7 linked regions of the Homo sapiens genome follow. The protein of the gene in region 1 interacts with the protein of each later gene in a pairwise test. Each region holds a gene or a part of one and is shown in the gene's direction. Other genes may lie near its edges. The genes, in order: HTR2C, ATP6AP2, TMEM94, SPNS1, SLC71A1, GJA1 and TM9SF2.

Evidence for each region.
Region 2: the proteins of HTR2C (region 1) and ATP6AP2 interact in a two-hybrid assay, tested with the Homo sapiens proteins (one large-scale study listed by BioGRID and IntAct).
Region 3: the proteins of HTR2C (region 1) and TMEM94 interact in a two-hybrid assay, tested with the Homo sapiens proteins (one large-scale study listed by BioGRID and IntAct).
Region 4: the proteins of HTR2C (region 1) and SPNS1 interact in a two-hybrid assay, tested with the Homo sapiens proteins (one large-scale study listed by BioGRID and IntAct).
Region 5: the proteins of HTR2C (region 1) and SLC71A1 interact in a two-hybrid assay, tested with the Homo sapiens proteins (one large-scale study listed by BioGRID and IntAct).
Region 6: the proteins of HTR2C (region 1) and GJA1 interact in a two-hybrid assay, tested with the Homo sapiens proteins (one large-scale study listed by BioGRID and IntAct).
Region 7: the proteins of HTR2C (region 1) and TM9SF2 interact in a two-hybrid assay, tested with the Homo sapiens proteins (one large-scale study listed by BioGRID and IntAct).

The regions. Positions count from the first base shown.
Region 1 is NC_000023.11:114,730,586-114,734,085, forward strand, and holds part of HTR2C (5-hydroxytryptamine receptor 2C isoform a precursor), read left to right. Parts: intron 1-36; exon of another isoform or gene 37-191; intron 192-708; coding exon 709-1,022; intron 1,023-3,500. UniProt on the Homo sapiens protein: G-protein coupled receptor for 5-hydroxytryptamine (serotonin).
Region 2 is NC_000023.11:40,583,970-40,587,469, forward strand, and holds part of ATP6AP2 (renin receptor precursor), read left to right. Parts: intron 1-3,500. UniProt on the Homo sapiens protein: Multifunctional protein which functions as a renin, prorenin cellular receptor and is involved in the assembly of the lysosomal proton-transporting V-type ATPase (V-ATPase) and the acidification of the endo-lysosomal system.
Region 3 is NC_000017.11:75,480,635-75,484,134, forward strand, and holds part of TMEM94 (transmembrane protein 94), read left to right. Parts: intron 1-3,500. UniProt on the Homo sapiens protein: Could function in the uptake of Mg(2+) from the cytosol into the endoplasmic reticulum and regulate intracellular Mg(2+) homeostasis.
Region 4 is NC_000016.10:28,977,778-28,981,277, forward strand, and holds part of SPNS1 (protein spinster homolog 1), read left to right. Parts: intron 1-130; coding exon 131-267; intron 268-1,377; coding exon 1,378-1,529; intron 1,530-1,627; coding exon 1,628-1,694; intron 1,695-3,500. UniProt on the Homo sapiens protein: Plays a critical role in the phospholipid salvage pathway from lysosomes to the cytosol.
Region 5 is NC_000001.11:100,076,095-100,079,594, forward strand, and holds part of SLC71A1 (hippocampus abundant transcript 1 protein), read left to right. Parts: intron 1-1,070; coding exon 1,071-1,183; intron 1,184-2,356; coding exon 2,357-2,454; intron 2,455-3,500.
Region 6 is NC_000006.12:121,445,646-121,447,936, forward strand, and holds part of GJA1 (gap junction alpha-1 protein), read left to right. Parts: intron 1-1,186; 5' UTR 1,187-1,202; coding exon 1,203-2,291. UniProt on the Homo sapiens protein: Gap junction protein that acts as a regulator of bladder capacity. A gap junction consists of a cluster of closely packed pairs of transmembrane channels, the connexons, through which materials of low MW diffuse from one cell to a neighboring cell.
Region 7 is NC_000013.11:99,560,472-99,564,548, forward strand, and holds the end of TM9SF2 (transmembrane 9 superfamily member 2 precursor), read left to right. Parts: intron 1-2,219; coding exon 2,220-2,287; 3' UTR 2,288-3,577; downstream 3,578-4,077. UniProt on the Homo sapiens protein: In the intracellular compartments, may function as a channel or small molecule transporter.

The DNA.
Region 1 (3,500 bases):
GAAATGAAAGGGTATTCTTGTCAAAACCCACTGTACCTCTTCCAGACGCTTTGCCGGAATTTGATCTGATGGCAACTTAATTCCTTCTTAGCCTTGGATCAATAGAATGCAACTTCCAGTTTCCTTGTTAGGGTCATGGATGCTTTAAGAAAATCCCCCTTCATTCTGTTATCAGCTGTCTCAGAACATATCTAAAGGAATCAGTATTTTAAAAATATAAAGAATAGACTATTACAGCAAATCAAGCAGTACTGTGGTTTCAGATCGCAGTAAAAGTTTAAAACATAGACTTTGAAATCAGTGGGACCTGAGTATGGACCCTGGCCCCGCCACTTACTGGCTGTTTAGGCTTGAAAAAGTTACTTACCCTTTCTGAACTTTACTCAGTCTTCTCATCTACGTGATGGATATAAATTAGAACTGACATCATGAGGTTGTTTAATAAGATCAAATGAGATTATACATATATGTTTCAGCAAACTAAGTGCCTAACTCATAATAATCACTCAATAAAAGTTGGTGATTTTTGGAGAGAAAGAAGAAATACTGAGATTAATTAAGAGAGTAGAAATAATGATGATGACAATGATGCTGATGATGATAATGATGACAATGATCCATGAAGAAGCAGTTGTTTTGCATGAGCAACGTATTGTGTATAAGTAATATAATATGTACCTGATTGTTTTTTTTTTTCTTAATTTTCAGTGTGCACCTAATTGGCCTATTGGTTTGGCAATCTGATATTTCTGTGAGCCCAGTAGCAGCTATAGTAACTGACATTTTCAATACCTCCGATGGTGGACGCTTCAAATTCCCAGACGGGGTACAAAACTGGCCAGCACTTTCAATCGTCATCATAATAATCATGACAATAGGTGGCAACATCCTTGTGATCATGGCAGTAAGCATGGAAAAGAAACTGCACAATGCCACCAATTACTTCTTAATGTCCCTAGCCATTGCTGATATGCTAGTGGGACTACTTGTCATGCCCCTGTCTCTCCTGGCAATCCTTTATGGTAAGTACAATTTTATTCACTTTTCAATCTCGTATAATGTCATAAATTTGTGTCATAGTAAACACTCATAAAGTTAATTATTTTACTTGTAACATTTGGAAAAAGAAAAAAGCAAATCGTGTGACAGAAGGAGTTGGATGTATGTATCATATTTATTAAACAAATCAGTAACAGTCTTCCAAAAGCAAAACATACATTTTATATATATTAAAATCATACATAGATGCTCTCTTGCTTAGTGTCTTTGTAAACAATGAATGAACAGTTAGTTGCCTTACAATGTACTGAATGAGACATTAACAGAAACATCTTTCAACCCCTGTGTTCTGGGCAGTACACATACCTACTACCATCTCTGATACAAAGAAGGAAAAACCGGCTCATCCTCTTTAATAAATATATTTTAAGAAATCCTTTTTTAAAGCTGCCAAACTAAGTGGTTGACACAAAACAGGCACTCAATAATAGCTATTCTTCTTGTTCATGGAGTCTATAATTTGTGTTATTACAAAGAGACAAGAGATAGCAAAATTAATTACTAAGTATATAAGTGTAAGTTCATATCATCACTTTAAAAATTCAGGCATTGAAAGTTTCAATATATTGATTTTAAAGAGGTTTTTAATTTTTCTTTTGATTTTCTTCCATCCCTTCATTCTGTTCATTTTAACCTAAGGTTTTGTTTCTAGCTAATATTTATGATGAACAATCAAATAGTTTATACAACTCTACAAAGTATCTTTACTAGGAAGTTGGAGAGCCCAGTTTGAATTTAATTGCTAATATGCTTATCTCACAAAGGAGTAAAATAGACTTCCAGTTGCCTGGAGTGTATAATGGAATTAGACTAGAAGAAATAATATTGAAAGTGTATCTAGTTGTCGAATCCTAAAAGAAAATAAATGCATCTAGAAAATAATCTCTCATGTAATGTAAAAATTAAGTAGCCTGTTCTATACCTATGGCAACAGTAGATTATCTTAATAGGCATTTTATAAAGTGTTCTCAGAATATATGCTTTTCATATTCTTCATCGAGTTTCAATGATGCATTAGCCTTAAAGCACTAGTATTTTATCTGCTCAGTGGGCATTTTACCACTCTATTGCTCCAAAATTAAGAAAAGATTACTGGAATGAAGTGAAACTATGATTTAGAAGGTATACTGTGTTCTGTGGTGTCTGTTTCGCCAGCTTCTCCCTTTAAAAAAATGTGAGTGGCCAAATAATGATATTAGCATAAATCCAAGTCTCTTAACATATCTATTCCCCTGCCCAAATAAACAAAGAACAATATAAAAAACAAATAAAACTGCACAATACCACCATTAAGTGTGGAGAACATTCAAATTTCAAATTACCTGTAAGTAGGAAAACAAATGGGAAATAACATTGAACTATCTATTAGACTTCTACCCCATGCTGTTGCGTAGAAGAAGAGTAGTCCAGGAAAGATAGCATGAAATAAACTAGAGGAAAGCTATTAGGAAGCCTAAGATTGATCTAAAACCACCACAGGTGGCCGGGCGCGGTTACTCACGCCTGTAATCCTAGCACTTTGGGAGGCCCAGGCTGGCGGATCACTTGAGGTCAGGAGCTTGAAACCAGCCTGGCTAACAGGGTGAAACCCAGTCTCTGCTGAAAATACAAAAAAATTAGCCGGGCGTGGTGGTGGGCGCCTGTAATCCCAACTACTCGGGAGGCTGAGGCAGGAGAATTGCTTGAACCTGGGAGGCAGAGGTTGCAGCAACTCGAGATCACAACACTGCACTCTAGCTTGGGCGACAGAGCAATACTCCATAAAAAAATTTAAAAAAAAAACCACCACAAGCAAGTAAGTCTACCCCAAGTACGAAAATACTGAAAAGTTTCTCTAGAAGGTCAGCTTTCAGATAAGGTACTGAAAAGTATGCATAAGACTCAAGAAAGCAGCCTTGGAAAATTAACTCTTTGGAGGTGGAAAAAGGTAAAAAAGGAAGCAAGAGGTGACTTGAAAAAAAAAAAGCACAGTGAAAGGAAAAAGAAGCAAGAGGGGGAAATTTATCATCTTACAGTACAGAAAATGTCAAAATATTAGGACCCATCACCCCTCCCTCTACTGTCTCCCACTGTCCCCCAAAGGCCCTCCAGTAAAGAAACCATACTTTGATACACAAAGAAAAGAGGATGCTCTTGAGCTTGGAATTTTGGAAGCTACCTACAAACTGTCAGTCATGTTCATAGAAATTCTGAGATGCAACCAATCTTCATCTATACCAAGCTACTATAGAAAAAAATCAGAATATGAGAATAGAAAGAAGGCATTTGATGAACATTCCCTCCAATAAAGAATGATCAAGCCGAAGAATATGCTAGCAAAACACTTCAAAAAAAATCTGCAAACAAGCATGTTAAGGTATTAAAAAATGTACTTTGAAGTAGTAATCTAATAACTAAGAATAGAAATGGTCAAAAAAATAGGACAGCATGAAGGAAAATTA
Region 2 (3,500 bases), about 74 Mb from region 1:
AGGAAAGCAGTAAGAGTCAAGAATGGAGCCCTCAGATCTCCAAAGTGGAGTATGCTAGGTGATCCATTTGGATGCCAGATGAATGTACTAGAAATTCCATTTATATCCTTTTTGTTTTTGTTTTTGAGACAGGGTCTCACTCCGTCACCCAGGCTGGAGTGCACTGGTGTGATCACAGCTCACTGCAGCCTCGACCACCCAGGCTCAAGCGATTCTCCCACCTCAGCCTCCCTAGTAGCTGGGACCACAGGCGCATGCCACCATACCCAGCTAATTTTTTGTTTGTTTTTGTAGAGATGAGGTCTCAAACTCTTGGGCTCAAGTGATCCTCCTCCTCAGCCTCCCAAAGTGCTGGGATTACACGCAGGTGTGAGCCATCGCACCCAGCCTCTATCTTTTTTTTTTTTTTTTTCCTTTTTTGAGACAGAGTCTTGCTCTGTCACCCAGGCTGAAGTGCAGTGGCACGATCTCGGCTCACTACAACCTCCGCCTCTGGGGTTCAAGTGATTCTTGTCCCTCAGCCTCCCAAGTAGCTGGGACTACTCTTGTTGCCCAGGCTGGAATGCAATGGCATGATCTTGGCTCACTGCAAGCTCCACCTTCCGGGTTCAAGTGATTCTCCTGCCTCAGTCTCCCGAGTAGCTAGGATTACAGGCATGCACCACCATGCCTGGCTAATTTTGTATTTTTTTAGTGGAGACGGGGTTTCTCCATGTTGGTCAGGCTGGTCTTGAACTCCCAACCTCAGGTGCTCTGCCTCTTGAGTAGCTGGGACTACAGGCATGCACCACCACATCTGTCTAACTTGTGTATTTTTTTGGTAGAGACGGGGTTTCACTATGTTCACCAGACTGGTCTCAAACTCCTGACCTCAAATGATCTGCCTGCCTCAGCCTCTGAAAGTGCTGGGATTACAGGCATGAGCCACCACACCTGGCCTCATTTTTGTATTTTTAGTAGAGATGAGGTTTCGCCATTATGGCCAGGCTGGTCTTGAACTCTTGGCCTCAAGTGATCCGCCTGTCTTGGCCTCCCAAAGTGCTGGGATTACAGGTGTGAGCCATCATGCCTGGCCTATTTTTATCTTATCTCTTTTTGAATAATAATGGTCAGGTATTTTGTAGACTGTCCCTCAATTTGGGTTTATCTGATGTTTTCTCATTATTAGATTGGGAAAAATACTACACAGGTATCTCATCCTTTTAAAAACTTTTATTTTTGTATGCTTTGTAATATAGCACAAATCAAATACATAATCTATTACTATAGTAGAAGTATATACTTTACATGGAGAGGATGAGAGGGACAGAGAGAAGAAAGAAGGGCTACTTTCCAATTTTGGGCTGACAGGGTTGAAATCTAAAAAGTTTGGCTACCACTGCTTTAAAGGACAGGAAGGGAAAGAAACAGAGGAGAAGCAGCCAAAGGGATTGCAAGGAAAACCAGGAGCCGTGGCTGCATGAAGACCAAAGCAGGGGCTTTTCAAGGAGGGAGTTGCCAGTATCAAATGCTTTGGGAAGTTAGATAAAATTAAGGGATGGAAATTGCCTTTTGAGTTTGGGGAGTCGTTTCAGTGGCATGGTGGGCTTGGAAGGTGTGGGCGGCCAGGTGGGGTGGCTCACGCCTGTAATCCCAGCACTTTGGGAGGCCGAGGCAGGCGGATTGTTTGAGGTCAGGAGTTCGAGACCAGTCTGGCCAACGTAGTGAAACCCTGTCTCTACCAAAAAAATACACAAGTTAGCCAGACGTGGTGGTGCGTGCCTGTAGTCCCAGCCACTCAGGAGTCTGAGGCAGGAGAATCTCTTGAACCTGGGAGGTGGAGGTTGCGGTGAGCTGAGATCCTTACCACTGCACTCCAACCTGGGTGACAGCAAGACCCTGTCTCAAAAAATAAAAATAAAAAAAATTTTTAAAATTTTGTGGGTTAAGTAGTAAACTTAAAATGAAGTATAGAAGCAAACGGTGGTTGACTGCTCTTCCTGGATTCTTCCTCTGAAGGGGAGCAAGGCTGGTAGCTGGTGGAGACTGGTAGGACCAAAGGAGGTTTTTTATGGTTTTAGTTATAGAATGGGAGTGCCTTGAGCGTATTTTTATGCTGAAGTGAAAGGGCCAGTGGAGAGGGAAAAAACTGGTGGTTTGAAGTGTGACTTCATTCATTCATTAACTCAACAAGTACTTATTGAGCACCAATGTGTCGGGCTCTGTTCTCAGCCCTGGGGATAGTGTGTGAACAAGACGCACTGAAATCCCCGCCTTCATGGAGCTTGTATTCTATAGGGCCATCTTTTGATGGCTATTACCATATAGCCACCTCACTCCTGATGTGTTGTCTGTCCTAGAAGAGTGGCTTCCTTAACAAACAGTGAAGGAACAAAGGTCCCTAAAAAGACTGAACACAGGATTGTCTTAGTCTGGAGGAGGGACATCCCTGCCCTCATGTCTGGAGGGAGAGGAGTTACAGATAGGGGCTTATGCAGATAAATTTGTGGTGGGGAGAGGAAGCAGGTAGCTCAAGAAATTCCTCTGTTTTCTCTGTGAAGCTGGAGATGAGGTTATCTGGTGAGACTGAGTTGGGGAGTGATAGCATAGGAAGTTGAAAGTTAGGAAGCCCATTTCAGTTCAGTACAAGGAAAAACTTTTCAAAGGACTAGAATGTTAGGAAAATGGAGCCAGTTGCTGGCAAATGTAGTTCGTATATTGAGGTGGTGTCCCCATCACTGGTAGTATTGAAATAGAGGAGGGGTGACTTTCTGCCAGGTATCCCTGAGACATGCTTATACTTATAATAAGCAGAAGTTTGGACAAATGACCTTCCTCTGTATAGGAGTCCCTGACTCTAAGGTTTTCTAAAGCTCTGGGCTTCTGAAGGACTGTTGTACAGGCATGGAAGTTGAAACTACGAAGCTGGGGCAAAGTTATTTGGTATAGGTTTGCCAGAATTGAATGAGTAGGGCCGTGTCTCAAAACAAGGGTATCTCCAAATCAAAATATGGTTTTTTAAATGTGTATGGTACCTGGGGCTGGGCGCGGTGGCTCACGCCTGTAATCCCAGCACATAGGGAGGCTGAGGCGGGCCGATCACTTGAGGTCAGGAGTTTGAGACCAGCTTGGCTAACATGGTGTCACCCTGTCTCTACTGAAAATACAAAATTTAGCCAGGCATGGTGGCACACACCTGTAATCCCAGCTACTTGGGAGGCTGAGGCAGGAGAATTGCTTGAACCTGGCAGGCAGAGGTTGCAGTGAGCCAATATTGTGCCACTGCACTCCAGCCTAGGCGACAGTGTGAGACTCTGTCTCAAAACAAACAAACAAAATATGTGTATGGTTCTTGGGAAGCATAGGTCTCTTGGTTCCCCATTTTTCTTAGTGTTTGCAGTACTACTACTTTAGTGAACCAAGATATCTATCAGTTACAAAAGACCATTCCATTCTGCTAATTTTTTTGGTCTGTCTTCAGCTAGAGCAGTTTGGACATTCCTGTTCTGACAGCTGTGCCG
Region 3 (3,500 bases), on another chromosome or scaffold:
CAAAGGAGGGACACCTCCCTGGCTCTCTGACTACTCCTCTTAGCCTTTTCTCTGCCTTGCTGGAAACTGTCACCTTCCTGAGTGTGGTCCTCATTCTAGGCCGAGCATCTTCCCAGCTGTGTACAGTTGCCTGGTCCTTCCTCTCTTTCTCCCTCCCAGTCTCCATCTCTTGGGTGGACAGCCTTCCCCCTATGCAGGCCAGCTTTTCCTGCCTTCAGTGTGTTTCTCACTTGATCATGTCTGGAGGCCTGGCCCAGGTATGGGCCATTCTGTCCTGGGAACACTCACATTCCTCTCTGTGGCGAGGAAGCTCAGAAGGCTGAGCCTGAGGGGAAGACACTGGAGGCCTGGGGTCTCTGTGTGCAGCCGCCTGTCTCCTAGATCCTCTTCTTCCCTGGGGTGGGAGGAACAGACGTCCATGCCCACAGACAGGAGAAGGCCTATGGTCTCCTCTTCCTGTTTCTCTTCCTCCCTTACAACCCTCCCTGAAGCTTTCCTTCCCTCCATGTCAGGAGCTCCGGGAGGCAGTAGGACAGGTACAGGCATTCATTTGCCCTGGACCATGGCCTCTTTGGGAGGCCTCAGGATCCTTGCCAAAGGGAGGTGGGTGCGTTGGAGCACAGTATTTACCCATGTGGGGGTGTGAGGTCCCCGCCGGGAGGGCCATTTCTTTCTGAGCTGAAATAACCAGTTTATCCCCTCTGGGAAGAGGCGGCTCTTATCTTTATAATCCCCCAAAGCCACTGTGGAGAGCGGGATTAGGTGAGATTTAGGGAAGGGAGCTGGGGAATCCTGGGGCCAGGCCCCGTCCCTCAGGCCAGCACTGGGGGCTCCACTTGAGTGCCTCCTGTGATGCCAGGCTGTGGCAGGGGGCAGCATCCCTGGGCCCAGGAGCCACTCTTACTTATGGGATGTGTGCCCTGCCAGGGCTGAGGCTCAGTTGCCGAGGAGGGGGTATGTGTGGAGACAGGCAGGAAGGAGTAAGCCCAGAAGGCCAGAGGGCACAGCCAGGGCAGGACTCTGGGAGACAGAACTGTGGGCCGCATAGAGGGTGGGGAGAGCAGTGAGACGAGGCAGCCAGGGGTCACCAGCCCCACAGCCTGTGGCTGAGCCTCCTCCATGGCTGCCCCAAATCCCTTTCCTGGTGCCTGAGGTCTAGGGATTCACTCCTCTTGCTCAGGAGGTTTTCCAGAGGGAAGCTCACATGGATGCTTCGCAGGTGGTCCTGGAAAGACTCACTTCTCCTTCAGGCGCTGCCTTTCATGGGGCTCTTCTTTGTCCCAGGGCCTCAGAGCTGGGGTGTGGTGGCTCACGCCTATAATCACAGCACTTTAGCAGGCTGAGGAGGGAGGATTGCTTGAGGTCAGGAGTTTAAGACCAGCCTGGGCAACATATCGAGGCCCCATCTCTACAAAAAAATGCAAAGGGCCAGGCACAGTGGCTCAGGCCTATAATCCTAACACTTTGGGAGGCCAAGGCGGGCAGATTGCCTGAGCTCAGGAGCTCGAGACCAGCCTGGGCAACATGGTGAAACTCGGTCTCTACTAAAATATAAAAAAAAATTAGCCGGGCGTGGCAGCATGTGCCTGTAGTCCCAGCTGCTCGGGAGGCTGAGGCAGGAGAATTTCTTGAACCCAGGAGGCAGAAGTTGCAGTGAGCTGAGATTGCGCCACTGCACTCCAGCCTGGGCAACAGAACGAGACTCTGTCTCAAAAAAGAAAAAAAAAAAAGCAAAGAAAATTAGCTGAGTGTAGTCCCAGCCACTCCATAGGCTGAGGCAGGAAGATCGCTGGAGCCTGAGAGGTGTAAGCTGCAGCGAACCATGCCCACGCCACTGCATCCAGCCTGGGCAGCAGAGCAAGACCCTGTCTCAATTTAAAAATATATATATATGTATGTATGTATGTATGTATGTATGTATGTATGTATGTATGTATAACCTGGAATTCCCTTCATCCCCAGAAATTTTGGTTCAGTAGGTCCGGAGTGGAGCCTAGACATCCACCACATTTTTAAAAGCTGTGGTGTCTAAGATTTTGGGCTGACAGTCCCGATTAAGGTGAAGCCTTGACTAAGCTGCGGAATGCCTCGGGTTGTTCCTGTTGCTGTTTCATTGGGATCATTGCATTCATTCATTCATTCATTTATTCATTCATTCATTCAGCAAGTATTCACTGAGCTTGTGTGTGCCATGCACTGTCTCAGCAGTTGGATGGTGAGGGTGTGTGGAAATGGAAGAATTCAGAGCCTGTTTTTAAGGAATTTGCAGTCTGGCGGGAGAGCCAGCTGTGTCAATCTGTGATTACAGTTCTGTAAGGTGCAGGCTGCAGGCCAGGTTGCCCAGGACACCATTGACATGTAAACCTCCCCTGAAGTGCAGCCCTGGGTTTTGGGAAAATGTCCCAGAGGAGGTGATGTTTGAGCTGAGTCTTGAAGGAGAAGCAAGAGTTGACTGGGGTGGGGCACGTGATTCTCGCTGGGAAACACATCAAGTATGTGAACATGAGCTGAAGGGGCTCGGCTCGTGTCAGGAGGAGCAGGAAAGGAGGCCAGGGAGGCTGGCACATCTGAAGGGTCTCCAGGAGCACACACAAGAATCGGACTTGATTTTAAGGGTAAATAGGTCATTTGACCAACCAGGCAGGCCCTGCTCTGGCCAAGGTGTTCCAGTGGGTTTGGAAAAGTTAGAGACAGTGTGGGGTGGAGTTTGGGCAAGCATAAGGCCAGGGTCAAGAATGTTCTAGAGGTGATTGGGTGAGACAGTCACTGTGAGAGGAAAGGTGACTCTGGCAGTAGAGCCAGGTGGCAAGTTCAAGTTTTTTTCTTTTCTTTTTTTTTTTTTTTGAGACAGAGTCTAGCTCTGTCACCCAGGCTGGAGTGCAGTGGCGTGATCTTGGCTCACTGCAACCTCTGCCTCCCGGTTCAAGTGATTCTCATGCCTCAGCCACCCAAGCAGCTGGGATTACATGCATGCACCACCATGCCCAGCTAATTTTTGTATTTTTAGTAGGGATGGGGTTTCACCATGTTGGCCTGGCCAGGCTGGTCTCAAATGCCTGACCTCAAGTAGTGCACCCATCTCAGCTTCCCAAAGTGCTGGGATTACAGGCGTGAGTTCGGCCCGAGTTCAGGTTTTTGGACACATTGACTCCTAGGTCCCTGTGAAGCAGCTGTAGGCCCGTTCAGCAGACGGGTCCACATTCAGGGTAGCGGTCAGACTTGAAGTAAAATAGGAGTTGTAGGCTTGTTGGTGGCAGGTGACTCTGTGACTGTGGATGAGGTTGCTCTGGAAACCTACAGAGGTTGGTAACGTGTCCTAGGTGGCCTATGGGGTAGACGGATGGGGAAGAACAGTCAGAGTCAACGGAGAAAACAGGAGAGAAGCCAGGAATGGGGGAGTCCTGACAGGGAAAGGCTGGGCCACAAGGTCGCCTAAGATGATGTGGTTGGTCCCTGCGTCGTCGGGGCCTACACTGTCCACACCTTGTCCCATTCATCCT
Region 4 (3,500 bases), on another chromosome or scaffold:
TGGGATGTGGGGGTGTTGTGAATTCTGTAAGGAGAAGGCAGGCATCTCCTGTGCTTTAGTGGTTCCAGCTGGGGTGGGAGTGGGAGGTAGGGGTACCTGGGCTGAGCTGTGACTCTCTGCTTCCCCCTAGTGTTCATCTCCAGTTACATGGTGTTGGCACCTGTGTTTGGCTACCTGGGTGACAGGTACAATCGGAAGTATCTCATGTGCGGGGGCATTGCCTTCTGGTCCCTGGTGACACTGGGGTCATCCTTCATCCCCGGAGAGGTGAGGCCCCAAGCTGGCTCCTGTTTCTGCCCACACCCCCTCCCTGTCAGTCTCTGCTGCTGCTCCTTGGAGCTATGGCAGACTGGGCCTCAGGGACTCCTGCAGTTTCCCTGGTCCATGCCATTTTATACCCCTCCTTGCCTGAGTTAACCTGCCCCACCCCATCCTCCCCTTTTCTTCCAGAGCATTCTCTGTCCATTATCCCCTCTTCCCCTGACCACTGACTCCTTCTACTCCATACCTAAACACTCCAAACCCTACCTGGCCTGCCCTCTCTCCCTCCTCTCATTCCTGATCAGACTTCCTGAAGGGCCCCTAGAGCGTGGTGCCAGTGTGGGTAAAAGAGCAGCCGGGGAGATGCCATCACTCTGCCTGCACTTCCTCACGCCTGCTCACCCCTCGAGCGCTGCCACTGACTTCTGCTCCCACCACTCCACGGACCCTGCTCTTGCCAAAGTTAACAGTGGCCTCCTAGTTGCTAAACACAGCTCCAACTTCCTGGTCCTGTTCATGCTAGGAGCCTCTGGCACTGTTGACCCACTCTTCCTTCCTGAAACTCTCTCCTACCTTTGCGATGCCACACTCTTCTGGCTTTCCTCCTGCCTCCCTGGCTGTTGCTTCTTTGTTCCTTTGAAGCCTCCTCTGTCTGTTCTCACTCCACCCCAGAACTCTGTCCTCAGCCCCAGGACCTACGTACTTTCCTTGGGTGACTGTACCCGTCCTTAGCTTCAGGTGCCTTTGGTAGACACATAAACTCCCATCTAAGGTCACTTATTCATTAAAAAAAAAAAATTAAAAAACTTTCCCCTACCAGGCAAGCAGGGGTTGTCTTATTTAGACCTTTTATTGTCTAGTCCTTGCAATAGCTCTGTGAAAAGTTGTTGTTATCCTCCTTTTGCAGATGAGGAAACTGAGGCTCAGAGAGGTTAAGTTATTTTCCCCAAATCGCAGCTAGTAAGTGGTGGAGCCAGGATGCAAGCTCAGGTCTGTGTGATTCTAAAACCCAGGCATCTCCCGCCATCCCTGCTGCCTCTTGGGAGCGGGCTGGTGAGGTAGCCCGGAGGCTGGTTGCAGGCTGGGGTGCCACCTCTCCCCGGTCTCTCTCCCCAGCATTTCTGGCTGCTCCTCCTGACCCGGGGCCTGGTGGGGGTCGGGGAGGCCAGTTATTCCACCATCGCGCCCACTCTCATTGCCGACCTCTTTGTGGCCGACCAGCGGAGCCGGATGCTCAGCATCTTCTACTTTGCCATTCCGGTGGGCAGGTGAGTGGGCCTGGGGCCTGGGGGAAGGCAGAAGGGCCTGGTGTGGGGGACTGGACTGACTGGCTGTCCCCCCTTTTTCCCCTCTCTCCCTCCCACAGTGGTCTGGGCTACATTGCAGGCTCCAAAGTGAAGGATATGGCTGGAGACTGGCACTGGGCTCTGAGGGTGAGTCTGGTCTTGGCCTGGGGGTAGGTCAGCGACGTTCTCACTGATCCCTGTTTCCTACCTTTGGACCCCTTCCCACCGCCCATTTTTCTTTTAAGAGACAGGGTCTTGTTGTGTCACCCAGGCTGCAGTGCAGTGGTGCAGTCATAGCTCACTGTAGCCTGGAACGCCTGAGCTCAAGTGATCCTCCCACCTCAGCCTCCCAAGTAGCTGGGACTATAGGTGCCCGCCACCATGCCTGGCTAATTAAAAAAACTTTTTCTTTTTGTAGGCTGGGTGTGGTGGCTAACACCTGTATCCCAGCATTTTGGGAGGCTGAGGCAGGTGGATCACTTGAGGTCAGGAATTCAAGACCAGCCTGGCCAACATGGTGAAACCCTGTCTCTACTAAAAATACAAAAATTAGCTGGGCGTGGTGGTGCATGCCTGTAATCCCAGCTACTCGGGGGGCTGAGGTAGGAGAATCACTTGAACCCAGGAGGCGGAGGTTGCAGCAAGCTGAGATTGTGCCACTGCACTCTAGCCTGGGCGACAGTGCGAGACTCCTTCTCAAAAAAAAAAAAAAAAAATTTTGCCAGGCATGATGGCTCACGCCTATAATCCCAGCACTTTGGGAGGCTGAGGTGGGCGGATCACCTGAGGTCAGGAGTTCTAGGCCAGCTTGACCAACATGGTGAAACCCTGTCTCTACTAAAAATACATAATTAGCCAGGCATGGTGACGCATGCCTGTAATCTCAGCTACTCGGGAGGCTGAGGCAGGAGAATCGCTTGAACCCGGGAGGCAGAGGTTGCAGTGAGCAGAGATCGTGCCATTGCACACACAAAATTTTTTTTTTTTGTAGAGATGGGGTCTTTGTATGTTGCCCAGGTTGGTTTTGAACTCCTGGCCTCAAGCAATCCTCTTGCCTTGGCCTCCTAAAGTGCTGGGCTTACGGGTGTGAGCCATGCGCCTGGCTCCAAATACCCCTTTTTTGGGGCAGCTCTCATTCTGCTGAGCCTGCAGGAGACTGGCTGCCCTCACCTGGAAGCCATGTGCTAGACAGAATTCTTGCGTGCAGGTGACAGAAGCCCATTGTAAAACTGTAAGCCCCCTAGAGGCCGGGTGCGGTGGCTCACACCTGTAATTCCAGCACTTTGGGAGGCCAAGGTGGGTGGATCACAAGGTCAGGAGATTGAGACCACCCTGGCTAACACAGTGAAATCCCGTCTCTACTAAAAATACAAAAAAAAATTAGCTGGGCGTGGTGGCAGGTGCCTGTAGTCCCAGCTACTCAGGAGGCCGAGGCAGGAGAATGGCGTGAACCCAGTAGGCGGAGGTTGCAGTGAGCCGAGATCGCACCACTGCACTCCAGCCTGGGTGACAGAGTGAGACTCTGTCTCGAAAACAAACAAACAAACAAACAAACAAACCGTAAGCCCCCTAAAGGGGCTGTCTTGGCTTTCTTCCTGAAAGTCCCAGGTGAGCTTCAGTCAGGTAAAGCTGGATCCAGGGCTCCCACACTGCCCTTCTCTTCTGAGCTTTACTTTCCTTTGTGTTAACATCATTCTTAAGGACGTGAGAACTCCAGATGATTACCTTTCCATTTAGCAACATTGGCACCTTGGACCCTGGGGCCGTGTTTCCAGGATAGCGTCTGACTAGATGAACATGCATCACGTGCCCTCTGCGGAATCCGTCACCGAGGCTGGGGTGGTTAACAGTCCTCTTGTTGGCCAAGCCTGGGATCCTATTTAAACCAAGTGGATTGAGAGAAGTAGGGGTACTGGTTTCCCAAAAGAAAATTACCAAAGAGGAGACAAAGCT
Region 5 (3,500 bases), on another chromosome or scaffold:
GTGATTTAAGTGAAAGTCTTAGACAAGAAAGCTGTGAGTTCTAATTGCTCAAAAATCCTTGAATGAATCATTTGCTTTTCACTGGCATATTTGTGATTAAATTCTTAAGTGGCCATCTCAATTTAAAGAATTCAAAACTTATATTTTATGAGTTTTAAAGTGTCAGCCCATCATAAAATAGTGATTTCCTGAATTATTTTTACTTGTCTATGGACTTACTAGCTATCTTATGTAGTATATTAAAAACGTTAGTTAGAATAGCAAAAAAAAATTTTCTAATGTTCCCAAATCACTGCTGAACTTTGTTGACTTTGAAAGAAAAAGGAGGCACAAGAAAACCCACCCACTGATAATATTGTTTATTAACCGCTGATTATTGCCAGGCACAATTCTAAGAACTTTATGTAAATATATCTCATTTAATTCCCATGACAAGGTTTTGAAATAGGTGCTGTTATCCCCATTTGCAAAGAGACAAAAGTGAGGCTCAAAGTGAAGTGACTTGCTGAGAGCCACACAAAGCCAAGATTATGATCCAGGCTGTTTTTCTAAAGTCTGCTGTATAGTATACTGCATTTATCCCAAATCAAGCTTATTAATTTACTGTTTATAAAAGGCATCATGGTTTCAACAACAGATTAACTTAGGTAAATAATATATGGGTAATCATTGTTCTGTTAGTTTTTCTTTAGTTGTGGAAATAAGCATTTTAGACTAACTTGGACCTAAACAAGCTTTAAGGCTATTATGTAATGGGGATCTCCAAATCATTAGTTAGAACTTTTGACCCTTCCATTTTCAACTACTGATTTAAGTGGTCCTCAGTAGAAATGTACTGAATAGGAAGTTTTATCTTTCAGTTTTCTAACTCTCAGTCTGGATCTATGTCAGCAGAGGGACTTTTCATCTGCTTATGTGACCTGGACTAGTGATCTCAGACATATTCAGGGCAATTATTGCTGAAAATCAGCCAAATTGTAGAAAAGTGCCAATAGTCCTTTTATAGTGTAGATTGAAAGAAGTCACTTTTTAAAACTTTATTCTGATAAATCTTTTTTTTTTTTTTTCAGACCATAGTCTTGAGTTTACTTATGAGGTCAATTGGAAATAAGAACACCATTTTACTGGGTCTAGGATTTCAAATATTACAGTTGGCATGGTATGGCTTTGGTTCAGAACCTTGGTAAGTATAAATATTTTAATGTTAATATTTTTAATTTTGGTGTTAGCCCTTGTGTTTTTATTTGCTTCTCAACTGAGGGGTAGACTGTAATCTGTCTCATACTATGCTTTTTATCTTTCAAAATGTGTCTAATATAAGTCTGCCACTTGTATATTTATATGTTCTCCTAGAATGGCTTGAGGATTAAAAAGGTGACCTTTTATAGCTAAATGACAGGCTGAATTTTTGAATGAGATTATACAGCTTTTGAATCTTTAAGGAGCATTTAATCTAAATCAGTCCGTTACTAGGAAAAAGTATGTAATCCCATAGCAACAAGGCCCTGAAAGTTATTTACATTTTTTGTTTTTCTGGTCAGGAAAAAGAAAGTTGTATAACCAGTGATCATTACTGATAGCAAACCAGAAGTGAAAACAATCCAGTTATTTTGGTGCCAGCTTCATGCTGTGTCTCAGCTTTTCTGACCAGTCGGGTTTCCTGCAGGGGACTTGAGTAGTGACGCTTGTTGTCAGGCTGCCCACGTAGATAGTATTATTGTGCTCAGGCATTATGGCACTGAACTCCATGGTTTGCACTAATATTTCAAACAACTGACTGCCTCGTCTCTGTTTGGACTTGGATATAAGCAAGCATCAAGAGGGTGATGATTTGTTCTCCAAACTAGCCTTTGCAAAGAGGTGCTCACAATTGAAATTACCTAAAACATTTCTTTTAAACATCAAGCCAGGAACATCCAAGTTACTTGTTCTTTACAATTTAAGGATTAGATCAAATCAGCGATATCTTCACAAATCCATCCATAAGAACTTTGCCAAAGACTTGTTGGCTTCATGTGTTTGGAAATATTTGATGATGTTTCGTCATCTATATTATACATTATCCTCAATATAACCTCTCAATTGCCTGTAGAAATAATACCCAGCACATTTTACAGTTTGGAACATGATATCCCTATTTTACATTACACCCTCACAGCACTCTTGTGAATTAAGTTGCTGTCTTTGTATACAGGGTCAGATTGTTAAGCGACTTGCCCATAGTCACCTAGTAAGCAAGTTCAGTTCTCCTTTTCTCTACAGCCATTTCACAGTAAGAATTACTTAATTATGTAGTTTGACTTTCAGGTACAGTGGAGAAGAATTTACTGTTTTTGTTTTGCTGCTCTCCTTATAGGATGATGTGGGCTGCTGGGGCAGTAGCAGCCATGTCTAGCATCACCTTTCCTGCTGTCAGTGCACTTGTTTCACGAACTGCTGATGCTGATCAACAGGGTGAGTTGATAGGAACTAGCGATAATTATTTAAAAGTACAGAATGTTCTAATCCTGTGTTCTGTCTCCTATGTACTGAAACATAAGTATATCTTCAGGGTAGAGACTTTTAAAATTGCTTTTGATATAAACAGGAAAAGCAGATTCTAGGGTATTTATCCTTAGGTAGATACATATTCCCTTTTCTCTCACTTAGAATATGTGGCTTATCTGTTCTGTTCATAGAAAATTTACTGATGAGGCTGGGCATGGTGGCTCACACCTGTAATCCCAACACTTTGAGAGGCCGAGGCAGGCAGATTGCTTGAGTTCAGGAGTTGGAGACCAGCCTGGGCAACATGGGGAAACCCCATCACTAAAATGCAAAAATTAGCTGGGCAGGGTGGCGCATGCTTGTAGTCCCAGTTACTTGGGAGGCTGAGGTTGGAGGATCACTTGAGTCTCAGAGGCGGAGGTTGCACTGAGCCAAAATCAGGCCAGTGAACTCCAACCTGGGCGACACAGTGAGAGACCTTGAGAGACCTGTCTCAAAAAAATTTACTGATGAATGTTGGCCACAGAATATTAACTAAGCATTAAGTTTTTGCTGTGTTGTGCTAGACACCTTGTGGGATATATTCATAGACCTTTTATGAATGTTGTCCCAGCCACTTGGGAAGCTGAGGCAGGAGGATTACTTGAGCTCAAGAGTTTGAAGCTAGCTTAGGCAACACAGCAAGACTCCCATCTCTAATAAAAAAAAAAAAAGAAATCATATAGTTTCAGTCATCTGAAGATATGTAACACAGCAACATCTTTAATGTCATATGCTCTCTTTTTTTTTTTTGGTGGGAACATTTAATTCTTGGGATGCTAACAGATGACAAATACTTCTTTGAAAAGGATATGTTTTGTCTAGTCATAAGGATAAAAGGGGCACTGCAAAACAGTGGCAGTTGTCACTTGGTTGATAAATGAGGAAGGAAAGGCCTATGGCCAAAGCAAGTTGCATTTTAAATTAAAGATCCAAAAGAGAGAAACAAAAATCAAATGCTGTTAAAACAGTGT
Region 6 (2,291 bases), on another chromosome or scaffold:
TTTTTAATAAGGCTGTGAGTAGTATTGAGACAAAATGAACTTTTTACATGAAGTGTGATGTGTATTTAGTCTTTGTTTTTCAAAGTAGGTTACTACATATAATGACACATTGTAGCAAAAGAGTATATTTCCATACAGCCTACTTTTTCTCTGGACAGAAGGCTGACTTCTGAGCTACATAAGTCACTGCTTAAGAAAAAAATAGTCACCATTGCTTGGGAGGCTAAGGCAGGAGGATTTCTTGAGCCCAGGGGCCTGGGCAACATAGTGAAATCCTATCTCTAAAAAAAGAAACAGAAAAGTGTAAATGACAATAATATAGGGTATGCACAAATTACACTTGATATACCATTGAAAAATCTTCCAGAGGCCAGGCGTGGTGGCTCACACCTGTAATCCCAGCACTTTGGGAGGCTGAGGTAGATGGATCACCTGAGGTCAGGAGTTCGAGACCAGCCTGAGCAACATGGAGAAACCTCATCTCTACTAAAAATACAAAATTAGCCAGGCGTGATGGCACATGCCTGTAATCCCAGCTACTTAGGAGGCTGAGGCAGGAGAATCGCTGGAACCTAAGAGGCGGAAGTTGTGGTGAGCTGAGATTGTGCCATTGCACTCCAGCCTGGGCAACAAGAGGGAAACACCATCTTAAAAAAAAAATCTTTCAGAGTGAAATTAGTAATAAAATGATATATAATAGCATTAAGGTTTTGGAAAGAAGGTTATGGATGTGTGTTTATAGGTATTCTTACCTGGATTCTTGATACCTATGCTTTGAATAACACACATCAGGATTTTGCTTAGCAAACACAGATCTACCAGGCAAAAACTGTCCTCATTTATCAGACAAATAAAAGGAGCAGAGGCTTAGCACAGGTGGCTTCTCAAGTCACACAGCAAGGCAGTGGTTGAGCAAGCAATACACCTTCCCAGGTTAAAGACTGCAACTCATCATCTGTTGCTTCTAAGACTTACTTTGTCTCAACAAACAAAACAAAACACTTGTTAGATCTTTTCTTCGTTGGCAAAAATGGGACAGGAAGAGTTTGCACTTGGTTTTTTGTGAAAGAATGTTAGAAATACGTGAAACCGTTGGTAGTATTTTGACTATCACCTGAAAGGTACTAAATGTTAAACTAGTAATTTGCAATCTGTGATCCTTGAATTGTCTCTTTGTTTCTTTCAGGTGGTGCCCAGGCAACATGGGTGACTGGAGCGCCTTAGGCAAACTCCTTGACAAGGTTCAAGCCTACTCAACTGCTGGAGGGAAGGTGTGGCTGTCAGTACTTTTCATTTTCCGAATCCTGCTGCTGGGGACAGCGGTTGAGTCAGCCTGGGGAGATGAGCAGTCTGCCTTTCGTTGTAACACTCAGCAACCTGGTTGTGAAAATGTCTGCTATGACAAGTCTTTCCCAATCTCTCATGTGCGCTTCTGGGTCCTGCAGATCATATTTGTGTCTGTACCCACACTCTTGTACCTGGCTCATGTGTTCTATGTGATGCGAAAGGAAGAGAAACTGAACAAGAAAGAGGAAGAACTCAAGGTTGCCCAAACTGATGGTGTCAATGTGGACATGCACTTGAAGCAGATTGAGATAAAGAAGTTCAAGTACGGTATTGAAGAGCATGGTAAGGTGAAAATGCGAGGGGGGTTGCTGCGAACCTACATCATCAGTATCCTCTTCAAGTCTATCTTTGAGGTGGCCTTCTTGCTGATCCAGTGGTACATCTATGGATTCAGCTTGAGTGCTGTTTACACTTGCAAAAGAGATCCCTGCCCACATCAGGTGGACTGTTTCCTCTCTCGCCCCACGGAGAAAACCATCTTCATCATCTTCATGCTGGTGGTGTCCTTGGTGTCCCTGGCCTTGAATATCATTGAACTCTTCTATGTTTTCTTCAAGGGCGTTAAGGATCGGGTTAAGGGAAAGAGCGACCCTTACCATGCGACCAGTGGTGCGCTGAGCCCTGCCAAAGACTGTGGGTCTCAAAAATATGCTTATTTCAATGGCTGCTCCTCACCAACCGCTCCCCTCTCGCCTATGTCTCCTCCTGGGTACAAGCTGGTTACTGGCGACAGAAACAATTCTTCTTGCCGCAATTACAACAAGCAAGCAAGTGAGCAAAACTGGGCTAATTACAGTGCAGAACAAAATCGAATGGGGCAGGCGGGAAGCACCATCTCTAACTCCCATGCACAGCCTTTTGATTTCCCCGATGATAACCAGAATTCTAAAAAACTAGCTGCTGGACATGAATTACAGCCACTAGCCATTGTGGACCAGCGACCT
Region 7 (4,077 bases), on another chromosome or scaffold:
TAATAAATCATCTATAAAACAGCAGTAGCCAGTGAAACAAGGAATGACTGTTTTTGTGCCCTGTGTGTCCATAAATGCATATACAGAATAATTTATTCCTAGCCTACACACAAAAAATAACGATCATTGTGAATATCTGTTGTTTTTCCAGACATATGATACAGAAAATGATAGCTTAACCATCACCTAAATTTTATTTATTTTTATTTATTTTATTTTTATTTTTTTGAGACGGAGTCTCACTCTTTTGCCCAGGCTGGAGTGCAGTGGCGCGATCTCAGCTCACTGCAAACTCTGCCTCCCAGGTTCACGCCATTCTCCTGCCTCAGCCTCCCGAGTAGCTGGGACTACAGGCGCCCGCCACTGCGCCCGGCTAATTTTTTTTATTTTTAGTAGAGATGGGGTTTCACCATGTTAGCCAGGATGGTCTCGAACCCCTGACCTCAGACGATCTGCCCGCCTTGGCCTCCCGAAGTGCTCGGATTGGGCGTGAGCCACTGCGCCCAGCTGATTTTGTTTTTTAAAGTGTTATATTTTCATTCATTCAGAGTTGAATTTTGTAATCTGAATTATGGAGTCATATCAAATGGAACCAACCAGTTAAACCAGTAACTTATAGTGTATTTCACTTTCTTCAATTGTATTTTTCCTTTAGTGAACAGGTGGAAGCATTCTGGATAAGGGAGTAGTGAGCCCTTTAAATGCCTTACCTTTCTCTAAAATAGGGTATGGTCTGTATTTGCTTCAGTACTCCAGAGCAATGCCATTTTATTGTATTTAAGTCAATCCATTTTACAAAACAGAAGTAATTATTCTGTCACAAAAGGAAAGACGCCACTTTTAGTACGTACATATATTCCATATTAAGAACAAAATTAAGTAACTAAACTTAAGTTTCTTAGAGTTGCCTGGATAGTGATTAAATGTTCTTCTCATCTTAAAATATTGTTTGTCATCTTGAAATTTATGCAAGTAAGTACAAAGTTATATAAATATACTGAGTTTTCATTATTGCTTTTCTGAAATTAACCCCAGCCCTAGCCTGAATAATTATCCTTTTGACTATGCAAAAGGTATATTTGTATGTCCTCCAAAACACACATTGTGCTTTGCATATAGTAGGGCCTCAATACATGTACAATGTAAGGATGGATATAATGATGTTTGTAATTTCCCACGGTAATGTCCCATGTATAGTCTCTTGATTTAGAAAATCTCCTTTAATATTTTCTCAGAGTACTGCATTTAAAACAATGGTGAAAACTATTGGGACTTTAAATGTAAAATTTATACAAGGATTATTTATAGTCCCTTATGTGTGCATGTGCAAGGAGTACTATGCTTGAAGTCAGAAAAAACGCATTTGATTTCTGGCCACAAGTACCATCCATGTGACCATGAGACAGTCACTTAACCCCTTTGAACCTCATTTTTGTCTCATTGAAAGAGTGTCCCCATCTAGCATTCAAATTCTTTGGAATCTAGACTGATACCTGAAAATCAAGCCATACATTGTTTTCATGAATTATCTCATTTACTCTACATAATAGTCTATGGAGGCAATGAGGACAGATAAATTTCTCCCTAGTTAATATGATAAATGGGCTTGGAGATGTCAGTGGACTTGCCCAAGGATGACACACACAGTTTGTGACAGAGCTGCTCTGTTCTCTGCTACCATGCTGTCCCTCATTTTCAGCTAGGATGCATTTTTGTTACTATCTAATCATGTCACTTTTAACATTTTGTAAAAACTTACTGAGTTATTTTATTATAATTCTTTGAAGACTGATAACTTCCAATAACTGTACTTAGAAAATATCCCCATTTAATCATTATTTGAACCTGTTTTAATGTATTCATCTCATACCTTAAAAAATTCTAGTAGCGTTTTCCATTTTGTTGTAAAATATTCTTAAATAGGAAAGGACAGTTGACATCCTTCAGTCTTTTCTATGTAGTAAGGAAAATAATGTGTATTGTAGAAAGCTTAGGTAATCTTATAGTAGAAAAAAGTTCTACCAATTTTTGTAAGAAACTTGATTTGAGGTGGTCGTATATTTTTCAGACGTGCTCATAGATCTGTAGTATATTCCCGGTGGGTAATAGTTTATAGTTTTGCGACTTTTTTAAGGAACCAGTCATTGTAAGTCTGTATTTTTGTGTAAAGTATGAAACTTCCTTTGAAAAGGGGTTTATTTTTATTTTTTCTCTTATAGGAACAATTGGCTTCTTTGCATGCTTTTGGTTTGTTACCAAAATATACAGTGTGGTGAAGGTTGACTGAAGAAGTCCAGTGTGTCCAGTTAAAACAGAAATAAATTAAACTCTTCATCAACAAAGACCTGTTTTTGTGACTGCCTTGAGTTTTATCAGAATTATTGGCCTAGTAATCCTTCAGAAACACCGTAATTCTAAATAAACCTCTTCCCATACACCTTTCCCCCATAAGATGTGTCTTCAACACTATAAAGCATTTGTATTGTGATTTGATTAAGTATATATTTGGTTGTTCTCAATGAAGAGCAAATTTAAATATTATGTGCATTTGTAAATACAGTAGCTATAAAATTTTCCATACTTCTAATGGCAGAATAGAGGAGGCCATATTAAATAATACTGATGAAAGGCAGGACACTGCATTGTAAATAGGATTTTCTAGGCTCGGTAGGCAGAAAGAATTATTTTTCTTTGAAGGAAATAACTTTTTATCATGGTAATTTTGAAGGATGATTCCTATGATGTGTTCACCAGGGGAATGTGGCTTTTAAAGAAAATCTTCTATTGGTTGTAACTGTTCATATCTTCTTACTTTTCTGTGTTGACTTCATTATTCCCATGGTATTGGCCTTTTAAACTATGTGCCTCTGAGTCTTTCAATTTATAAATTTGTTATCTTAATAAATATTATAAAAATGTCTTCATTGCATCATTACCTATTATATATTCAAGGAGGTTCTGTAAATACAGATCTATTTACCAAGGTGTTTTGAAATGATTTATACTATTTTATCAGATTTTACTGGATTTTGTTAATGTAACACTTTCTGAGTTTTGATCTGAATGGAATTTCACTGTGTAAGGCATTGTCTAAAATGTTCACTGTGAGGCAGTAGAGGAGGTTGAAGTCATGCATATCTAGACAGATGAATTATCTGCAAGTACTTAAGGTGGAGCCTTACTACATTGTCATTAAGGAGTTTCTATTTTTGACTTGTTTTTCAAAATACAGTGTTTTAAGTCAGGTTTTATTACCTGGACATTAGCAATCACTAGCAAGTCTTCATCTTTATGATTTCATTGTTTTAATTTAGATTTCACAAACAGTTTTACTTCTAAGAGTTAAGAAATGCACTGTCTTTCACATTCATCTGACTAATTGAAATCCATTTATGTAGAATATAGGAATGGGGGGTGATTCTGAAGTATCGGTCTGCTTGTATCTGTGAGCATATTCATTTGTATTTTAGGGTCTCTCTGCTTGCTGCTTAGGAGAGCAAATCAGATACTGTCATTAAACTTACAACTAAAATTACTAGCTGTCACTTATATGATATTGCTGGGTTCTTACTGAATAATTTTTTTTTTTTTTTGAGACAGAGTTTCCTTCTTGTTGCCCAGGCTGGAGTGCAATGGCGAGATCTCGGCTCACCACAACCTCCGCCTCCCAGGTTCAAGCAATTCTCCTGCCTCAGCCTCCTGAGTAGCTGGGATTACAGGCATGTGCCACCACGCCCGGCTAATTTTGTATTTTTAGTAGAGACGGCATTTCTCCATGTTGGTCACACTGGTTTCAAACTCCTGACCTCAGGTGATCTGCCCGCCTCGGCCTCCCAAAGTGCTGGGATTACAGGTGTGAGCCACTGCGCCCAGCCTTACTGAATAATTTTATGTCACTGTCCTTTTTTAAAAAAACGGACCTGTTGGTTTTGAAGAGTAAAGGAGGAGCTCTGTTCATTTTTAACATGGAATATTTAAGATAGAAGAGTTTCTTTCAGTTTTATGTATCTCTTGTATTTATTTTTTATGGGTAGAGTTGTCCCTTAGTATTTATGGGAGATTGGTTCCAGAACCCTT